Linked DNA regions of Homo sapiens: all the other regions are linked to region 2. The links come from fine-mapping of genetic effects on gene expression. A gene starts in region 2. Each other region holds a variant in brackets. All regions are shown on one strand. Distances are between the middles of the regions.

Evidence for each region. PIP is the estimated chance that this variant, and not a neighbour inherited with it, causes the effect. A credible set is the group of variants that fine-mapping cannot tell apart.
Region 1: its variant is the best candidate, but not a certain one, in a credible set for the expression of DISC1 in esophagus muscle (GTEx, PIP 0.55).
Region 3: its variant is the best candidate, but not a certain one, in a credible set for the expression of DISC1 in whole blood (INTERVAL, PIP 0.82).
Region 4: its variant is the best candidate, but not a certain one, in a credible set for the expression of DISC1 in whole blood (INTERVAL, PIP 0.50).

Annotation. Positions count from the first base shown.
Region 1 is chr1:231,829,898-231,834,897 of GRCh38, reverse strand. The region is part of intron 9 of DISC1 (DISC1 scaffold protein); the gene reads right to left. The region is part of intron 12 of TSNAX-DISC1 (TSNAX-DISC1 readthrough (NMD candidate)); the gene reads right to left. The region is part of intron 1 of LOC105373170 (a long non-coding RNA gene); the gene reads left to right. Among named protein-coding and RNA genes, the nearest start is that of DISC2, 14 kb to the right of the region's middle. RefSeq lists an enhancer at 3,029-3,539. The variant G/A (reference allele first, on the strand shown) is at 2,537.
Region 2 is chr1:231,624,230-231,629,229 of GRCh38, reverse strand. DISC1 (DISC1 scaffold protein) reads right to left here and starts at 2,440. Exons shown (of 13, transcript NM_018662.3): 1 at 2,296-2,440. The coding sequence starts at 2,362. The region is part of intron 5 of TSNAX-DISC1 (TSNAX-DISC1 readthrough (NMD candidate)); the gene reads right to left. RefSeq lists silencers at 721-921, 1,895-1,954, 2,285-2,544.
Region 3 is chr1:232,026,243-232,031,242 of GRCh38, reverse strand. It overlaps DISC1 (DISC1 scaffold protein), which reads right to left. Exons shown (of 13, transcript NM_018662.3): 12 at 4,691-4,808. TSNAX-DISC1 (TSNAX-DISC1 readthrough (NMD candidate)) reads right to left here. Exons shown (of 16, transcript NR_028393.1): 15 at 4,691-4,808. It overlaps LOC124904549 (a long non-coding RNA gene), which reads right to left and starts at 4,677. Exons shown (of 2, transcript XR_007066941.1): 1 at 1-4,677. The variant T/C (reference allele first, on the strand shown) is at 2,886.
Region 4 is chr1:231,657,590-231,662,589 of GRCh38, reverse strand. The region is part of intron 1 of DISC1 (DISC1 scaffold protein); the gene reads right to left. All of the region lies in intron 5 of TSNAX-DISC1 (TSNAX-DISC1 readthrough (NMD candidate)), which reads right to left. Among named protein-coding and RNA genes, the nearest start is that of DISC1, 33 kb to the right of the region's middle. The variant G/C (reference allele first, on the strand shown) is at 2,170.

The DNA of each region.
Region 1 (5,000 bases), 210 kb before region 2:
CGCTTGGTGTTTAATCACACGGGGATGTCTGCATGATTATTCACCCACGTTTCAGAGGTGTCTGACCATGCAGGGACGCCTGCCTTGGTCCTTCACCGTTAGTGGCAAGTACAGCTTTTCTAGGGGGCAAGAACCCCCCATCCCTTCTCTCCGTGTCTCTACTCTCTCTTTTCTCTGGGCTTGCCTCCTTCACTATGGGCAAGCTTCTGCCCCCCATTGCCCCCTTCTTCTCCCTTAGCCTGTGTTCTTAAAAACCTAAAACCTATTCAACTTACACCTGACCTAAAACCTAAATGCCTTATTTTCTTCTGCGATGCCGCTTGACCCCAATGCAAACTCGACAGTGGTTCCAAATAGCCAGAAAACGGCACGTTCAATTTTTCCATCCTACAAGATCTAAATAATTCTTGTCATAAAATGGGCAAACGGTCTGAGATGCCTGACGTCCAGACATTCTTTTACACATCGGTCCCTCCCTAGTCTCTGTTCCCAGTACAACTCATCCCAAATCTTCCTTCTTTCCCTCCTGCCTGTCCCCTCAGTCCCAACCCCAAGCGTCGCTAAGTCTTTCTAATCTTCCTTTTCTACAGACCCATCTGACCTCTCCCCTCCTCACCAGGCCAAGCTAGGTCCAAATTCTTCCTCGGCCTCCACTCCTCCACCCTATAATCCTTTTATCACCTCTCCTCCTTACACCCGGTCTGGCTTACAGTTTCGTTCCATGACTAGCCCTCCCCCACCTGCCCAGCAATTTCCTCTTAAAAAGGTGGCTGGAGCTAAAGGCATAGTCAAGGTTAATGCTCCTTTTTCTTTATCCCAAATCAGATAGTGTTTAGGCTCTTTTTCAGCAACTATAAAAACCCAGCCCAGTTCATGGCTCGTTTGGCAGCAACCCTGAGACACTTTACAGCCCTGGACCCTAAAAGGTCAAAAGGCCGTCTTATTCTCAAAATACATTTTATTACCCAATCTGCTCTGGACATTAAATAAAACTCCAAAAATTAAATTCCAGCCCTCAAACCCCACAACAGGACTTCATTAACCGTGCCTTCAAGGTGTACAATAATAGAGTAGAGGCAGCCAAGTAGCAACATATTTCTGAGTTGCAATTCCTTGCCTCCACTGTGAGACAAACCCCAGCCACATCTCCAGCACACAAGAACTTCCAAATGCCTAAACCGCAGTGACCAGGAGTTCCTCCAGGCCTGCCTCCCCCAGGAGCTTGCTACAAGTGCCAGAAATCTGGCCACCAGGCCAAGGAATGCCCGCAGCCCAGGATTCCTCCTAAGCCGCGTCTCATCTGTGCGGGACTCCACTGAAAATCGGACTGTTCAACTCACCTGGCAGCCACTCCCAGAGCCCCTGGAACTCTGGCCCAAGGCTCTCTGACTGACTCCTTCCCAGATCTTCTCAGCTTAGCAGCTGAAGACTGACACTGCCAAATCGCCTTGGAAGCCCCCTAGACCATCATGGATGCCGAGATTTGGGTAACTCTCACAGTGGAGGGTAAGTCCTTCCCCTTCTTAATCAATATGGAGGCTACCCACTCCACATTACCTTCTTTTCAAGGGCCTGTTTCCCTTGCCTCCATAACTGTTGTAGATATTGACGGCCAGGCTTCTAAACCTCTTAAAACTCCCCAACTCTGGTGCCAACTTTGACAATACTCTTTTAAGCACTCCTTTTTAATTGTCCCCACCTGTCCAGTTCCCTTATTAGGCTGAGACACTTTAACTAAATTATCTGCTTCCCTGACTATTCCTGGACTACAGCTGAATCTCATTGCCGCCCTTCTTCCCAATCCAAAGCCTCCTTTGCGTCCTCCTCTTGTATCCCCCCACCTTAACCCACAAGTATAAGATACCTCTACTCCCTCCTTGGTGACCGATCATGCACCCCTTACCATCTCATTAAAACCTAATCACCCTTAGCCTGCTCAATGCCAATATCCCATCCCACAGCACTCTTTAAAATGATTAAAGCCTGTTATCACTCACCTGTTACAGCATGGCCTTTTAAAGCCTATAAACTCTCCTTATAATTCCCCCATTTTACCTGTCCTAGAACCAGACAAGCCTTACAGGTTAGTTCAGGATCTGCGCCTTATCAATGAAATTGTTTTGCCTATCCACCCTGTGGTGCCAAACCCATATACTCTCCTATCCTCAATACCTCCCTCCACAGCCCATTATTCTGTTCTGGATCTCAAACATGCTTTCTTTACTATCCCTTTGCACCCTTCATCCCAGCCTCTCTTCGCTTTCACTTAGACTGACCCTGACACCCATTAGGCTCAGCAAATTACCTGGGCTGTACTGCCACAGGGCTTCACAGACAGCCCCCATTACTTCAGTCAAGTCCAAATTTCATCCTCATCTGTTACCTATCTCGGCATAATTCTCATAAAAACACACATGCTCTCCCTGCTGATCATGTCTGACTAATCTCCCAAACCTCAATCCCTTACAAAACAACAACTCCTTTCCTTCCTAGGCATGGTTAGTGAGGTCAGAATTCTTACACAAGAGCCAGGACC[G/A]CACCCTGTAGCCTTTCTGTCCAAACAACTTGACCTTACTGTTTTAGCCTAGCCCTCATGTCTGCGTGCAGCGGCTGCCGCTGCTTTAATACTTTTAGAGGCCCTCAAAATCACAAACTATGCTCAACTCACTCTCTACAGTTCTCATAACTTCCAAAATCTATTTTCTTCCTCACACCTGAGGCATATACTTTCTGCTCCCTGGCTCCTTCAGCTGTGCTCACTCTTTGTTGAGTGTCCCACAATTACCACTGTTCCTGGCATGGACTTCAATCCAGCCTCCCACATTATTCTGGATACCACACCTGACCCTCATGACTGTATCTCTCTGATCCACCTAACATTCACCCCATTTCCCCATATTTCCTTCTTTCCTGTTCCTCACCCTGATCACATTTGGTTTATTGATGGCAGTTCCACCAGGCCTAATCGCCACTCACCAGCAAAGGCAGGCTATGCTATAGTAGCTTCCACATCTATCATCAAGGCTACCACTCTGCCCACCCCCCCCCACTACCTCTCAGAAAGCCGAACTAGTTGCCTTAACTCAAGCCCTCACTCTTGCAAAAGGACGACACGTCAATATTTATACTGACTCTAAATATGCCTTCCATATCATACACCACCATGTGGTCACATGGGCTGAAAGAGGTTTCCTCACTACGCAAGGGTCCTCCATCATTAATGCCTCTAATAAAAACTCTGCTCAAGGCGGCTTTACTTCCAAAGGAAGCTGGAGTCATTCACTGCAAAGGCCATCAAAAGGCGTCAGATCCCATTGCTCTAGGCAACGCTTATGCTGATAAGGTGGCTAGACAAGCAGCTAGCTCTCCAACTTCTGTCCCTCACGGCCAGTTTTTCTCCTTCACATCAGTCATTCCCACCTACTCCCCTGCTGAAACTTCCACCTATCAGTCTCTTCCCACACAAGGCAAATGGTTCTTAGACCAAGGAAAATATCTCCTTGCAGCCTCACAGTCCCATTCTATTCTGTTGTCATTTCATAACCTCTTCCACATAGGTTACAAGCTGCTACCCTGTCTCTTAGAATCTCTCATTTCCTTTCCATCCTGGAAATCTATCCTCCAGGAAATCACTTCTCAGTGTTCCATCTGCTATTCTACTACCCCTTGGGGATTGTTCAGGCCTCCTCCCTTCCCTACACATCAAGCCCGGGGATTTGCCCCTGCCCAGGACTGGCAAATTGACTTTACTCACATGCCCCAAGTCAGAAAATTAAAATACCTCTTAGCCTGGGTAGCCATTTCACTGGATGGGTAGAGGCCTTTCCTACAGGGTCCGAGAAGGCCACTGCAGTCATTTCTTCCCTTCTGTCAGACATAATTCCTCAGTTTAGCCTTCCCACCTCAATACAGTCTGATAACAGACGAGCCTTTATTAGTCAAATCAGCCAAGCAGTTTTTCAGGCTCTTAGTATTCAGTGAAACCTTTATATCCCTTACGGTCCTCCGTCTTCAGGAAAGGTAGAACAGACTAATGGTCTTTTAAAAACACACCTCACCAAGCTCAGCCACCAACTTAAAAAGGACTGGACAATACTTTTACCACTTTCCCTTCTCAGAATTCAGGCCTGTCCTCGGAATGCTACAGGGTACAGCCCATTTGAGCTCCTGTATGGACGCTCCTTTTTATTAGGCCCCAGTCTCATTCCAGACACCAGACCAACTTGGACTGTGCCCCAAAAAACTTGTCATCCCTACTATCTTCTGTCTAGTTATACTCCTATTCACCATTCTCAACTACTCATACATGCCCTGCTCTTGTTTACGCTGCCGGTTTACACTGTTTTTCCAAGCCATCACAGCTGATATCTCCTGGTGCTATCCCCAAACTGCCGCTCTTAACTTTTGAAGTAAATAAATAATCTTTGCTGGCAGGACTATGCTGAATCTCCTTAGGCACTCTCTAATTAGATGTCCTAGGTCCTCCCAATTCTTAGACCTTTAATACCTGTTTTTCTCCTTCTCTTATTCCATTTAGTTTTTCAATTCATACAAAACCATATCCAGGCCATCACCAATAATTCTAAATGACAAATGTTTCTTCTAACAACCGCACAATATCACCCTTTACCACAAAATCTTCCTTCAGCTTAATATCTCCCACTCTAGGTTCCCATGCCGCCCTAATCCCGCTCGAAGCAGCCCTGAGAAACATCGCCCATTATCTCTCCATACCACCTCCAAAACTTTTCACCATCCCAACACTTTACCACCATTTCATTTTATTTTTCTTATTAATATAAGAAGACAGGAATGTCAGGCCTCTGAGCCCAAGCTAAACTATCATATCCCCTGTGACCTGCACGTACACATCCAGATGGCCAGTTCCTGCCTTAACTGATGACATTCCACCACAAAAGAAGTGAAAATGGCCTGTTCCTGCCTTAACAGATGACATTATCTGGTGAAATTCCTTCTCCTGGCTCATCCTGGCTCAAAAG
Region 2 (5,000 bases):
TGAGATCTTGCAACCTGTTCTTTCAATGTTTTAATAACTTTTCTGCAAATTGTCATCATTTGTTTTACAAGAAGATAGTTTAAAGTATATTTTATAAAATAAGTCTGAGGGAAATTAAAATTATGCCAAAGCCTCTTTTGCCAGGATTAACAGTTCACTCTTACATTTTGGGTCTATAGATATGCAGGATGGAGGTTGGGCCTGGTGGCTCATGCCTGTAATCCTAGCGCTTTGGGAGGCCAAAGTGGGAGGAATGATTGAAGCCAGGAGGTCGAGACCAGCCTGAGCAACATAGCAAGACTCCAACTCTAAAAAAAAAAATTAGCTGGGCATGGTGGCATGCGCCTGTAATCCCAACTACTCAAAAAGCTGGAACAGGAGGATCTCTTGAGCCCAGGAGTTCAAGGCTACAGTGAGCCATGATTGTGCCACTGCACTCCATCCTGGGTGACAGAGCAAGACTCTGTCTCCTAAAGAAAAAAAAATTACCTAAATTCTAATATAGGTCTGTTCTGAATCACAGCTCCACTCTATAAGTTCAGTTTGGCAAGCGGCCAAGAACACAGTTGTGAGTGGCACCCACACCAGGGTTCTAATCCTGGCTTTACACTTAAGAGCTCTGTGAGCTTGGGAACCAAGCAGGGTGACCCTGAACCTCAGCTTTGTCATAGGGAAATGAGGACTGTAATCCCAGTCCCATAAAGATGCAGGGAGGATTTCATCAAAGGAATTCATAATAAAATGTCTGGCACATTGTAAGTTCTAAAAACCTGCAGATGTTACCATTCCCTCCTAGTACTATCATGTCTTATATGTGCATAGTGACTCATACTCCACAAGGTGCTTTCAGATCTTTTGCCTCATTTAATCCTCAGGCAATGCGATCAGTACAAAAGGCAGTAATTACTACCCCCATTTTTCTTTTATCTTTTTTGTAAACAGATGAGAAAACAGGCTCAAAGTCAAAGAGCCCGAAAAGCGGGTATCTTGTCCACGGTTCTTTTTGCTCTGTGGCACAGAACTGAACCTCAGAGGACTTCATGTACCATGCCGAGCACAGGAGAACTACATGTGTTTTTAAATGCCCTACTATTCCTGCATTAATCAAATCAAACTGGTATTCTCACATTACTCCCAATTATTTAGATTTTGCCTAGGAAAAATAGCAACTAAGGTTTTTTGAGAGTGCACTGGGTATTTCAGGCATTGGGCGAGGTGCTTCACTTCCACCATCACAGTTAAACCGCATAACAACCCTATGAAGCAGGTACTGTCATAGTCTCCTGCATGTCCAGGATTGACATGCAGGCAGACTGTCTCCAAACCCCAGTTCCTATGGTCCTAGTGCTGTCCAATTCAAATTTGTCCAGTTGATGATAACACTTTGCAAATTGATTTCCCATACAACAAACCTAACGACACATGGAGGCCAGGCTATGAGTGTTCTCCTTTACATTTCAGGAGACTGAGGCTCTGAGAGGTTAAGCGACTGACCCAGCCCTGTCCTCACCCAGCAAGAACACAAGGCAGCACTCCCTAACTCCAAATCTCACTGTCTTTGGAAAACCTCACATTTTAAGAGTGAGAAGGTAGAAGTCCTGTCATTGTTGAAAAACAACCATCCACAATCATCACTAAGAGTTGACAGCGAGACCCGCGCTCCAGGCGGTGGAAACCGAGCAGTCTCCGGCTTGGGCCATCCCCGTTACTGTAGCCAAGTAGGAAGTGGGCGGTGACACTGATTTCAGAGCAGCCCCTAGGGAAGGCACAGGCACCAGTTCCTGGTCCCGCTCCCAGCCTCCTCCCTCCAGGTCCCCGAAGGGGTGGAACCCGAGATCCAGCTGGGTCTTGGGGTTAAGGCGGGCGGGACGTCCCCTGTCCCGAGGGGGCGCAGGCTGGGGCGCACCGCAACGAGAGTGCAGGCGGCGCAGGTGTCCCAGGACGGGGACGGATCCAAACCCCAAGCACGCCTCTGCAACCTTTCCCGGTCACCTGGACACGCAGCGGGGGCGCGGGTCAGACTCCTACAGTTTCGCAAACTGCGGGTCCCGGGGATCGCTGCACAGTCCTGGGTCAGGGACCTGGCCCGGCTCGGCGCTGGTGCCGGGCTGGCAGCCCAAGACTCGCTCTTCTCTCAACCTCGCACGCCTCGCGTCCTGCCTCAGTTTCCCTCACCTCGAAAGGGGTTGTTAACAGAGGCACGCCCTGACCTACGCGACTTCCTGGGGGCCAGAGCGCGCCCTCCTTGCCAGGACCCCCCCAGGACGTGCTAGGACTCTGTGGCAGCTCCCCTACCTGCGCGGTGGCTCACGCCGCCGCCGCCGGCGGCGGCTGGGGCGCCCTGAGGACCCCCGCCTGGCATGCGCCCCGCTGCCAGCTCCTCCCGCTCCGCCTGGGCTGCCTCCTGCTCCTTCCCCGAGGCCAGAGGCGGGGGGAAGGGAGCAGCGCGCTGGACGGGAAGTGGGGAGGGGGCTGGCGACGAAGGGGGCGGCTCCTTTCTTCTCCTCAGCGAGTCCGCTGTTTCCTTTCCAGCATTGGCCCCTGACGCGCGCGCGCGCGCGCACACACACACACACAGACATACACACACACGCTGCTGGAGCGGGCGGGGCCAGCGGCCCTCACAGCCTGTCTCCGGGATCTCAGGACCTCAGAAAGTTTGCTTTCACTCTGACTCATTTCTGGAAGAAACAAGAGGGGAAGTGCAGGAAGCCTCCAGGATGGGGTACAGGAGGGCGCCTTCCAGACGCATGATTTAAGAAGTGACCACACAGTGATGGAGAAGATGGAGGGATGTGAGGGGCTCATTTATACAAAGTGGGGGCGGGGGGGAGGAGTGGGGATAACTGATGACCCTGGAAAGAGATGAGTGGGAGCAGATGTTTAGAAATGAGATAGGATTCCAACTTCTAGCATCTTCCAGCAGCTCCGGGCTGGTTCCAGGACACAGAAGTCCATGCAAGCTCCTAGGCAACTGACTCCCCCCTTCACCCCTTCTCTTTGGTTCATTCAAGGAAGCTACTGGAGCACCCCCTAGGTAGCACCTGCTATAGGACAATGGGTACAAGGAAGGGCTACACATGAGCTCTTTGCCCTTAAGCAGCTCACCTCCAGGCTAGAAGGAGAGCACGTGCATAGAAAACGAAATCACAACATGAGATAGAATGTGCCATGTGCCAGAGGCTTGGCACAAAACCTCTTGCAATGGTTCAGGGATAGGAGGGAGAACTGTGAAGAAGAAGGGTTGGGGAGACGTTCTGCAGGAATGGGAAGGATCTCCTTAGAACGAGAGGAGTTAGAACTAGAGGAAGGCTGAGGTCCTTCAAAAGCTGAAGATCTTAAGACTGAAAGCACACAGTTGTACTTAAAATCAGTGTGTTTGCCCGGCATGGTAGTGCACTCCTGTAGTCCCAGCTACTCGGCAGGCTTAGGTGGGAGGATTGCTTGAGTCCAGGAGTTCAAGGCTTCAGTGAGCTATGATGGGGCCACTGCACTCCAGCCCAGGTGACAGAGAGAGACCCCCCACACCCCCACCACATCTCTAAAAATAAATAAATGTATGAATATCTAAGGCCAGGCACTTTGGGAGGCCAAGGTGGAAGTTCACTTGAGTCCAGAAGTTTGAGATCAGCCTGGGCAACATAATAAGAACCTCTTTTTTTTTTTTAACTTTTAAGTTCAGTTTGTTACATAGGTAAACTTGTGTCATGGGTGTTTGTTGTACAGAGTATTTTGTCACCCAGGTATTAAGCCTAGTGCTCATTAGTTGTTTTTCTTGATCCTCGCCCTTCTCCTACCCTCCGCCCTCCAAAAGGCACCAGTGTGTGCTGTTCCCCTCTATGCGTCCATGTGTTCTCATCATTTATCTCCCACTTATAAGTGAGAACATGCAGTGTTTGGTTTTCTGTTCTTGTGTTAGTTTGCTAAGAATAATGGCCTCCAGCTCCATCCATGTCCCTGCAAAAGACATGATCTCATTCTTTTTTATGGCTGCATAGTATTCTATGGTATATATGTACCATATTTTTTTATCCAGCCTATCATTGATGGGCATTTAGATTGATTCCATATATTTGCCGTTGTGAATAGTGCTGCAGTGAACATGTGTGTGCATGTGTCTTTATAATAGAATTATTTATATTCCTTTGGGTGTATACCCAGTCATACGATTGTTGGGTCAAACAATATTTCTGTCTTTGGGTCTTTGAGGAATCACCACACTGTCTTCCACAATAGCTGAACTAATTTACACTCCCACCAACAGTGTAAAAGTGTTCCTTTTTCTCCACAACTTCTCCAGCATCTGTTATTTTTTGACTTTTTAGTAATACCCATTCTGACCGGTGTTAGGTGGTATTTCATTGTGGTTTTGATTTGCATTTATCTGATAATCAGTGATGTTGAGCTTTTTTTATATGAATGTTGTCCACATATATGTCTTCTTTTGAAAAGTGTCTGTTCATGTCCCTTGCTCACTTTTTAATGGGGTTGTTTGGTTTTTTCTTGTAAATATAAGTTCCTTATAAGATGCTGGATATTAGATCTTTGTTAGATCACAGTTTGCAAAATTGTTTTCCCATTCTGTAGGTTGTCTGTTTACTCTGTTGATAGTTTCTTTTGCTGTTCAGAAGCTCTTTAGTTTAATTAGATCCCAGTTGTCAATTTTTGCTTTTGGCATCTTTGTCGTGAAATCTTTGCCCATGCCTATGTCCTGAATGGTATTGCCTAGGTTGTCTTGCAGGGATTTTATAGTTTTGGGTTTTACAATTAAGTCTTTAATACATCTTTAGTTAACTTTGTATAAACTGTAAGGTAGAGGTCCAGTTTCAATCTTCTGCATATGACTAGCCAGTTATCCCATCACCATTTAGGAAATTCTTTACCCATTGCTTGTCAAAACCCTTTCTATAAAGAAAAAAAAAATTAATTAGCCAGCACAGTGGCCTGTACCTGTAGTCCCAGCTACTTGGGAGGCTGAAGCAGGAGGATCACTCTAGCTC
Region 3 (5,000 bases), 400 kb before region 2:
CCTCTCTTTCTCTCTCTCTTTCTCCCTTCCTTCCTTCCTCTCTCTCTGTCTCTCCTTTCTCCCTTCCTTCCTTCCTGTTCTCTCTCTCTCTCTCCTCTCTCCCTCCTTCCTTCCTTCCTTCCCTCCCTCCTTCTTTGGCAGTGTCTTACTTTGTTGCCCAGGCTGGAGTGTAGTAGTGTGCAGTCTCAGCTCACTGCGACCTCCACCTCCTGGGTTCAAGCAATTCTCACGCCTCTGGAGTAGCTGGGACTACAGGTGTGCACCATCACGCCCAGTTAATTTTTGTATTTTTAATAGAGACAGGGTTTTGCCATGTTGCCTAGGCTGGTCTCAAACTCCTGGTCTCAAACAATCCATCCACCTCAGCCTCCCAAAGTGCCGGGATTAAGATGTAAGCCACCGCACCTGGCCAGGCTCTGGATTTTCTTATCTATAAACTACATGAGTGGAGCTCCATGATCCTCATGATCCCTCTTCCAGCCCCTCAGCTCTAGAAGTGGAAAACATCTCCAAGGAGGCAGGACAGTCTCCCAAAACTCTCGTTACCTTTGTCTGTTCACGCTAAAATTTGGAAAGTTGAACTAAACAAGGGTCCTACGGAGCTGTGGTATTTGTGCACAAACCTGGATGTATTTAGAGCATGCCCTCAAGCACCACCAAAACTAAACAATTGGGCACCATGCACTCCAAATAACCAGAGAAACAGAATTCCATAAGGGCTTCCCAGACATGGATGTAAATACAACCACAAATAGAATCAGAGTGTCTCTACCTCGTCTATGACTGAGGGCCAGGCAGAACTGCCCTGAGGGCTTTGAAATATGCCAAAAATGTACATATCACAGGTGTACTTCTTTTCCTTTGAAAGTGTGTTGTAGAAATTGAAGGAGGAAGAAAATGAGAAAATTCCTGCTTAAAAATCCACCTTAATTTGGAAGGCTTTTGGTTACAATATTTTGAGCGTGGAGGAGACCTTGCACACAGTCAAAATGTTTTTCAAAACATACTGCTAATTAGGACCCCAGATGACTGTGAAAATGCACTAGAGACTCACACTAATGCTCCTGGAAGTCCCGACTTGACTGGCCGTGAAGTCACACCTCCTGTCCCCTTCTCAGGCACTAGGCGTGAGCCACCTCTCCACCACCAGCTCTCCCAATTAATGGTGCAGACTGTTTTCAGACACTCGCTGCCACAGTAGCTGATGGGTTTGTGTTGTTCTTTGGTCATGCTACATGTAATTTGGTGAGCCTGTCAGGACGATGAAGAGGCAAAGGCTCTTTCCTCTCCCTCCTTGGATTGGTCAATCAGTGTCTTCTTAATAAAAGTAGGAGACACCCATGAGGCTGCCCATAACTCGGATATTAAATCAGGAGGCCACAAGGACCTATTTGGAAACTCAGTCCCACTGCCCACCCCTAACCTCTGTTGATGCCACACTAATAGCCCTTATGTACACACATGGTTTATGCAAAAACTGAGTGTTTTCCACACAAAGAATAAACATCCATGGTAGCATCTGTGGCTTGAATCTTTCAGACGTGGACGTCCAATGTGGGCTTACATTAATCACATTCCAATGTGGACTTAGATTAATTGGGTACCTCACATGCACAGTAGGCTCTGGCAGCATGCTTAATGGAATCAAACAAAACACTGCACTCACTGTGCAATCCTTCTGTATTGTTGACAACAAGCTGTTTCTTTCAGCCACACTCAGCATTGTATCTTTGATCAAACATGGAAATACAAACCAGTCAGAGTTTGGCTGGAGGATTCTGGCAGCCTCTCTGAATCTCTAGATAAGCTCTAATTTGAAACAACGGCTTTGGTTTGTGTAGGGGAGCCTCCGTAGAGCCTTGTAAACATGTCTTTCTATCTTAGGGCATAATGTTCCACTCAAATTTAAGTGCTGCTTTGTATGAATTCAAAGACACCTTCTGTGTATTTATTCTCAATCAGTGACAGAAGACTGGGATTCGAAGAAAAGTCTGGGTTGAAATCCATATCGTGGTGTAGATTTTATTGGAGGGAGGGAGAGAGCTGACTTCAGTACCTAAACCAGTGCTTCTCCGCTTATCACAACAGAGATCAGTGAAATTCTCAAAAAACATAACATCAGTGAAATACTTTTATTATAGCTTAAAAATTTAAAGTAATTGTGTGTTCCATGGAACAGACCTGTCCATTTACTTATAGGCAATGGCTGCTTTCTGATGGGCCTAATAGGACCATGGGGCTTGTGGCTGAAAAGTTCTGCTACTCATCAGAAATGACCTTGTGTCAGCCAAGTTGTTCCCAAGCCTTGTTTTTTTCGACTGTCAAGTAGGGATAATAATCCCTATCCATTTATAGAAGTTTTATTATAATTAAATGACTTTTCATCTAAGCCACTGTGGAGTTACTGATTGATTCCTTCAAGCATTTATTACAAAATAGTTGAATCAATCTACCTTGAAACTTTTTGTGTATAAATGGGATGTTCTTGGAGCTTGTGACTAATATACTAAGAACTGTGAGACAAATGGACTTGGATAACACTTTTCTACCTAAAATCATGCACTTACCCATGGCTATATTAAATGTACATTATGAATATAGCCTTATTTAACCCCCATAAAAACCTTAGAGGTGTATGTTATCCTGACATTACAGATGGGAACCCTAATGCTTAAAGAGGCATTATCACTTGTCCATGATCCCGCTGCTATTAAATCTGGCTTGGATCAGCTGTGGAAAAACTAAAAGGATCTTGTTTAAATACTGCTTAACCCCTTGTTTTTCAGGGGTCTTTACTAGAGCTGCCTCCCCAGCTCTAGTAAAAATAAGATCCAATTCCCCAGAATCAAACTAACCTTTTAGAAAATTTCACAATAAGAGACCAG[T/C]ACAGAACCCTGACTGCAGCCCTCAGAACTGCTACCTGAAGACAGAGGTACAACCCACTTAGGAACTGCCCATCTGCTGAGCTGGGGAACGGGAACCCCTTCATATCCATTGACTCTCTGCAGCGGACTCCTCCTCTGTGCCCCATCACCTGCCCATTTGCTGGAAGCCATACCCCCTTACACGTGCTCAAAGATTTGTGATCCCATGAACATGGAATAAATAAAAACGCCATCCTTATTCTATGTTTGTATGCTTCTTTGGGAAACTTTCTGATAATAGCTTAAATACAAGATTTTTAAGAGGCAGGAAATTATGAAGAACAGAATATCTGCTTTTCAAAATCTACCTAAAGCAATGTGAAAATCATTGCAGATTAAGTTGAAGAAATTTTCTGCCCAGCTTAATAAACAAGGTCAAAAATGTAAAGTTATAACAAGGAAGGAAGTGTAGCATTGGCTCTATCATTAAATCACAGATCTGAGTATTTATGACTAAGATTAATCCTTGGCCATTCAAAGCTACTTATACACACACACACACACACACACACACACACACACACAGCCCATAAAGTATGGTAAAAACTGGAATTCTAAAAAGTAAGACAGCAATGACAAGCAAAGACCAAAATAGCTAAATTTGCCACAAACGCATCTAATAAAAGACATTCTACTGAATAGAAAGATGAATGAATAGGGAAGTGTTTTTAGCTAGAGAAGTGTCAACTTGTGATTAAATAACTGAAAGGATATAGGGCTGCATATCCCTTCATCCACTGGGTACCCACCCATTTGCTCTCAGCAGAACTAACCAGTGACAAACTGCGTCCACAGATCAACACAGAATGGAGTGCTTCATACGGATGCATACCTAAGCCAGTATGTTCTCAGGCCATCTTGCTCACTAGCAGCTAGTTTTGATGAAGGTGTTTGTAGGTGTGACACCAAGGATATTAAGTCTGGTGCAAGAAATTCTATCACCGGGAAGCAGAAAGGACTAAATTGAGTTCAACCATGTGTATATGGTTAGAAGTTGAAAGGAAATAATCTAAAGTCCTGTTTGCTTTGTTACTGTACTGCCCATTACTAGGTAGAGTTGCTAGATAAAGAAATTCAGAGGTGGATTTAGGACGCTTGGTATTGAAAAAGCTCGTAGGAAAACGAGCCAGTCAACTGTTTTCCTTCACCAGGGCCACACAGAGCTGGATTTACACTCACTTGAAACTGCATTTTCTTTGGCTTCCTCGTGTGCATGTCTGAACTTAATTGTTAGTGGTTGGATTTAGCAATTAAAAATACTGAATTGCGGCCGGATGCGGTGGCCCAAGCCTGTAATCCCAGCACTTTGGGAGGCCAAGGCGGGCGGATCACTTGAGGTCAGGAGTTCTAGACCAGCCTGGCAAACATGGCAAAACCCTCTCTCTACTAAAAATACAAAAAAATTAGCTGGGCGTGCTGGCGGGCACCTGTAATCCCAGCTACTCAGGAGGCTGAGGCAGGAGAACCGTTTGAACCCAGGAGGTGGAGGCTGCAGTGAGCTGAGATCACACCATTGCACTCCAGCCAAGGCATCAAAAAAAAAAAAAAAAAAAAAAGAAAAAAGAAAAAAAATACTGAATTGCTTACTGAAAACTAGAGCGAAAACATTTCATACCTGATAATCTCAGAGATCTGAGGTGCTCTGTGCTATAAATAACGGCAGCATCTATTTGTTGCCATCTTCTGAGGCATGAAAAACTACCCTTTAAAGACTCTCTTTTATAAAATAACTTTGCCTTGCTTCATCTGCAAGATGAAAAGGATATGAATGAGATCTTCATCATGACTGTGGATTGCTGTGTGAAGTTGATCTTCCAAGTACAATAGCTTCTTGCCTATGTCTTCACACTTTTCTCCAAGTTCTGCAGAAAGGATGTAAGATTCCTGGCGAGAGGGGGAAAACAAGATCACTTGTTAGTGCCGTGGACACAGACAGAACACAAAGGGAAGCTTCCTGGAAAGAGCTCTCCCAGTTTCTGCACCTCAGTCAGAATTGTGCTAGGGCCTGTGTCTCCCCTGGGTATCAAACTTGAGAAGTTGTGAACTGATTTCAAGTTATGACCAAAGAATGAGCTT
Region 4 (5,000 bases), 33 kb before region 2:
AATACAAATGGTCCAGATGAGGAAGGGCCCCCCACAATGCAGCACAGCTGCTTTGCCACACTGTGGCCAGATTGCTTCGTTAAGTGGGACCCCGATTCATTCCTCCTTACTGGGAGGGACCTCCCTGTGGGGGCTTCAGCCACGCCAACAAGGGTTCTATTAACAGAACTCTGACCTCTCCCTCGGATGCAGCTCCCAGGGGGAGAGGTGGCTGCCATCTCTGTGGTTCAGTGGACTCAACCATTCCAGCCTGCTGGCTTTGGAGAATGCAAACAGTCCAGATGAGGAAGGGTCTGCCACAATGCAGCACACCTCCTCAGACAAAAAGCAGCAAGACTCATCTTTAAATGGGTCCCTGATACCATTCCACCTGACTGGGTGAGACCTCCAAACAGGGGTCTCCAGCCACCTCTTACAGATATGTTCTGGCCAGCAACAGGTCAGTATCCCCCTGGCACAGAGCTTCCACAGGAAGGAGCTGGCAGCCATCTTTGCTGTTTTGCAGCCTTCACTGGTGATATCTCCAGGTACAGGAAAAACCAAGGCAACCAAGGTCTGGAGCAGACCCCCAGCAAACTGCAGCAGCCCTACGGTAGAGTGGCCTGACTATGAAAAGAAAAACAAACAGAAAACAACAACAACAAAAAGATCAACAAAAAGAATCCCACAAAACCCTATTGAAAGGCCAGCAACCTCAAAGATTGAAGGTAGATAAGCCCACAAAGATAAGCAAAGAATCAGTGCTGAAAACTCAAAAAGCCAGAGTGGCTCTTCTCCTCCAAATGACAGTAACACCTCTCCAGCAAGGGAACAGAACTGGGCTGAGGCTGAGATGACTGAACTGACAGAAGTAGACTTCAGAAGGTGGGTAATAACAAACTTCACTGAGTAAAAGGAGCATGTTGTAACCCAATGCAAAGAAGCTAAGAATCATGATAAAACAATACAGAAGCTGATAGCCAGAATAGCCAGTTTAGAGAGGAACATAACCAAGCTCATGGAGCTGAAAACACACAACACGAGAACCTCACAATGCAATCACAAGTATCAATAGCAGAATAGACCAAGTGGAGGAAAGAATTTCAGAGCTTAAAGACTATCTTTCTGAAATAAGACAGGCAGACAAGAATAGAGAAAAAAGAATGAAAAGGAATGAACAAAACCTCCAAGAAATATGGGATTCTATGAAGAGACCAAACCTCCAACTGATTGGGATACCTGAAAGGGACAGGGAGAATGGAACCAAGTTGGAAATCACACTTCAGGATATCATTCAAGAGAACTCACCCAACCTGGCAAGATAGGCCAATATTCAATTCAGGAAGTGCAGAGAACCCCAGTAGGATCCTCCATGAGAAGATCAACCCCCAGACACATAATCATCAGATTCTCCAGGTCGAAATGAAAAAAAAAAAGTGAAGGGCAGCCAGAAAGAAAGGCCAGGTCACCTACAACGGGAAGCCAATCAGACTAACTGAGGACCTCTCAATGGAAACCCTACAAGCCAGAAGAGATTGTGGGCCAATATTCTACAGTCTTAAAGAAAAGAATTTCCAACCCAAGATTTCATATCTGACCAAACTAAGGTTCATAAATGAAGGAGAAATAAGATCCTTTTCAGACAAGCAAAGGCTGAGAGAATTCATCACCACCAGGAAGCACTAAATATGGAAACGAAAAACTGTTACCAGCCACTACAAAAACACACTGAACTACACAGACCAGTGACACTATGAAGCAACTACATAAACAAGTCTGCAAAATAACCAGCTAGCATCATGATGACAGGATCAAATTCACATATAATAATACTAACCTTAAATATAAATGGGCTAGGCCAGGCACAGTGGCTCACACCTGTAATCCCAGCACTTTGGAAGCCTGAGGCAGGCAAATCACCTGAGGTCAAGAGTTCGAGACCAGCCTGGCCAACATGGTGAAACCCCATCTCTACTAAAAGATGGCAGGTGCCTGTAATCCCAGCTACTCGGGAGGCTGAGGCAGGAGAATCGCTTCACCCGGGAGGCAGAGGTTGCCGTGAGCTGGGACTGCACCATTGCACTCCAGCCTGGGTGACACAGAGTGAAATTCCATCTCAAAAAATATAAAATATATATATTTTTTTTTTGGGCTAAATGCCCCAATTAAAAGACACAGAATGGCAAGCTG[G/C]ACAGAGCCAAGACCCACTGGTGTGCTGTCTTCAAGAGACCCATCTCACATGCAAGACATACACAGGTTCAAAATAAAAGGATGAAGGAAAATTTACCAAGCAAATGGAAAACAGAAAAAAGTAGGGGTTGCAATCCTAATTTCTGACAAAACAAGACTTTAAGCCAACAAAGATCAAAAAATATAAAGAAGGGCATTAATAATGGTAAAGAGTTCAATTCAACAAGAGCTAACTATCCTAAATATATATGCATCCAATATAGGAGCACCCAGATTCATAAAGCAAGTTCTTCAAGAATGACACACTTAGACTACTTAGACTCCCACACAATAATAGTGGGAGACTTTAACAACCCACTGACAATATTAGACAAATCAAGACAGAAAATTAATAAAGATAGTAAGGACCTGAACTCAGCCCTGGATCAAGTGGATCTGATAGATATCTACAGAATTCTCCACCACAAAACAGCAGAATATACATTCTCCTCATTGACATATGGCACTTACTCTAAAACTGATCACATAATTGGAAATAAAACACTCCTCAGCAAATGCAAAAGAGCTGAAATCATAACAGTCTCTCAGACCACAGCACCATCAAATTAGAACTCAAGATTAAGAAATTCACTCAAAACCACACAACTACATGGAAACTGAACAACCTGCTCCTGAATGACTCTTGGGTAAATAATGAAATTAAGGCAGAAATCAATAAGTACTTTGAAACTAATGAGAACAAAGAGACAATGTCCTAGAATCTCTGGGACACAGGTAAAGTGGTGTTAAGAGGGAAATTTAGAGCATTAAATGCCCACATCAAAAGCTAGAAAGATCTCAAGTTAACAACCTAACATCTCAACTAAAGAACTAGAGAACCAAGAGCAAACAAACTCCAAAGCTAGAAGACAAGAAATAACCAGGATGAGGGCATAATAAGTGAAGAAGACAGAGACACAAAAAACCCTTCAAAAAAATCAACAAATCCAGAAACTGGTTTTTTGAAAAAAATAATAAAATAGATCACTTGCTAGACTAACAAAGAGGAAAAGAGAGAAGAATCAAATAGATACAATAGAAAATGTTAAGGGAGATATCACCACTAACCCCACAGAAATACAAACAACCATCAGAAAATACTGTAAACACCTCTATGCACATAGACTAAAAAATCTAGAAGAAATGGATAAATTCCTAGACACATACACCCTCCCAAGACTGAACCAGGAAGAAATTGAATCTCTGAATAGACCAATAATGAGTTCTGAAATTGAGACAGTAATAAATAGCTTACCAACCAAAAAAAGCCCAGGAACAGACAGATTCACAGCTGAATTCTACCAGAGGTACAAAGAAAAAGGGGTATCATTTTGACTGAAATTATTCCAAAAAATTGAAAAGGAGGGACTCATCCCCAATTTATTCTATGAGGCCAGCATCATCCTGATACCAAAACCTGGCAGAGATACAACAAAAAAAAAGAAAACCTCAGGCCGATATCCTTAATGAACATCAATGCAAAAACCTTCAATAAAATACTGACAAACTGAATGCAGCAGCACATCAAAAAGCTTATCCACTAGAATCAAGTTGGCTTCATCTCCAGGATACAAAGTTGGTTCAACATATGCAAATCAATAAATGTGATTCATCACATAAACAGAACTAAAGACAAAAACCACATGATTATCTCAATATATGCAGAAAAGGCCTTCGATAAAATCTGGCATCCCTTCATGTTAAAAATTCTCAATAAACTAGGTATTGAAGGAACATACCTCAAAATAATAAGAGCCATATATGACAAACCCACAGCCAATATCATACTGACTGGGCAAAAGCTGGAAGCATTCCCCTTGAAAAACAGCCCAAAACAAGATGTCCTCTCTCGCCACTCCTATTCAACATAGTATTGGAAGTTCTGGCCAGGGCAATCAGATAAGAGAACAAAATAAAGGGTGTTCAAATAGGAAGAGAGGAAGTCAAATTATCTTTGTTTGCAGATGACATGATCCTATATCTAGAAAACCCCATCATCTCAGCCCAAAAGCTTTTTAAGCTGATAAGCAACTTCAGCAGTCTCAGGATACAAAATCAATGTGCAAAAATTGCTAGCATTCCTACACACCAACAACAGGCAATCAAAGAGCCAAATCATAAATGAACTCCCATTCACAATTACTACAAAAAGAATAAAATAACTAGGAATACAGCTAACAAGGGAAGTGAAGGACCTCTTCAAGGAGAACTACAAACCATTGCTCAAAGAAATCGTACAGGACACAAACAAATGGAGAAACATTCCATGCTCATGAACAGGAAGAATCAATATCATGAAAATAGCCATACTGCCCAAAGCAATTTATAGATTCAATGCTATTCCCATTAAACTACCATTGACATTCTTCACAGAATTAGAAAAAACTATTTTAAAATTCATGTGGAACCAACAAATCCCAAATGGCCAAGACAATCATAATCAAAAAGAACAAAGCTGGAGGCATCATGGCTACCCAACTTCAAACTATACTGCAAGGCTACAGTAACCAAAACAGCAGGGTATTGGTACAGGAACAGACACATAGACCAATGGAACAGAATACAGAACTCAGAAATAAGACCCAACACCTACAACCATCTGATCTTCAACAAACTAGACAAAAACAAGCAATGGGGAAAGGACTCCATATTTAATAAATGGTGCTGAGAGAGCTGGCTAGCCATATGCAGAAAATTGAAACTGGACCCATCCCTTACACCTTAAGCAAAAATCAATTCAAGATGGATTAAAGACTTAAGTGTAAAACCCAAAACTATAAAAATGCTGCAAG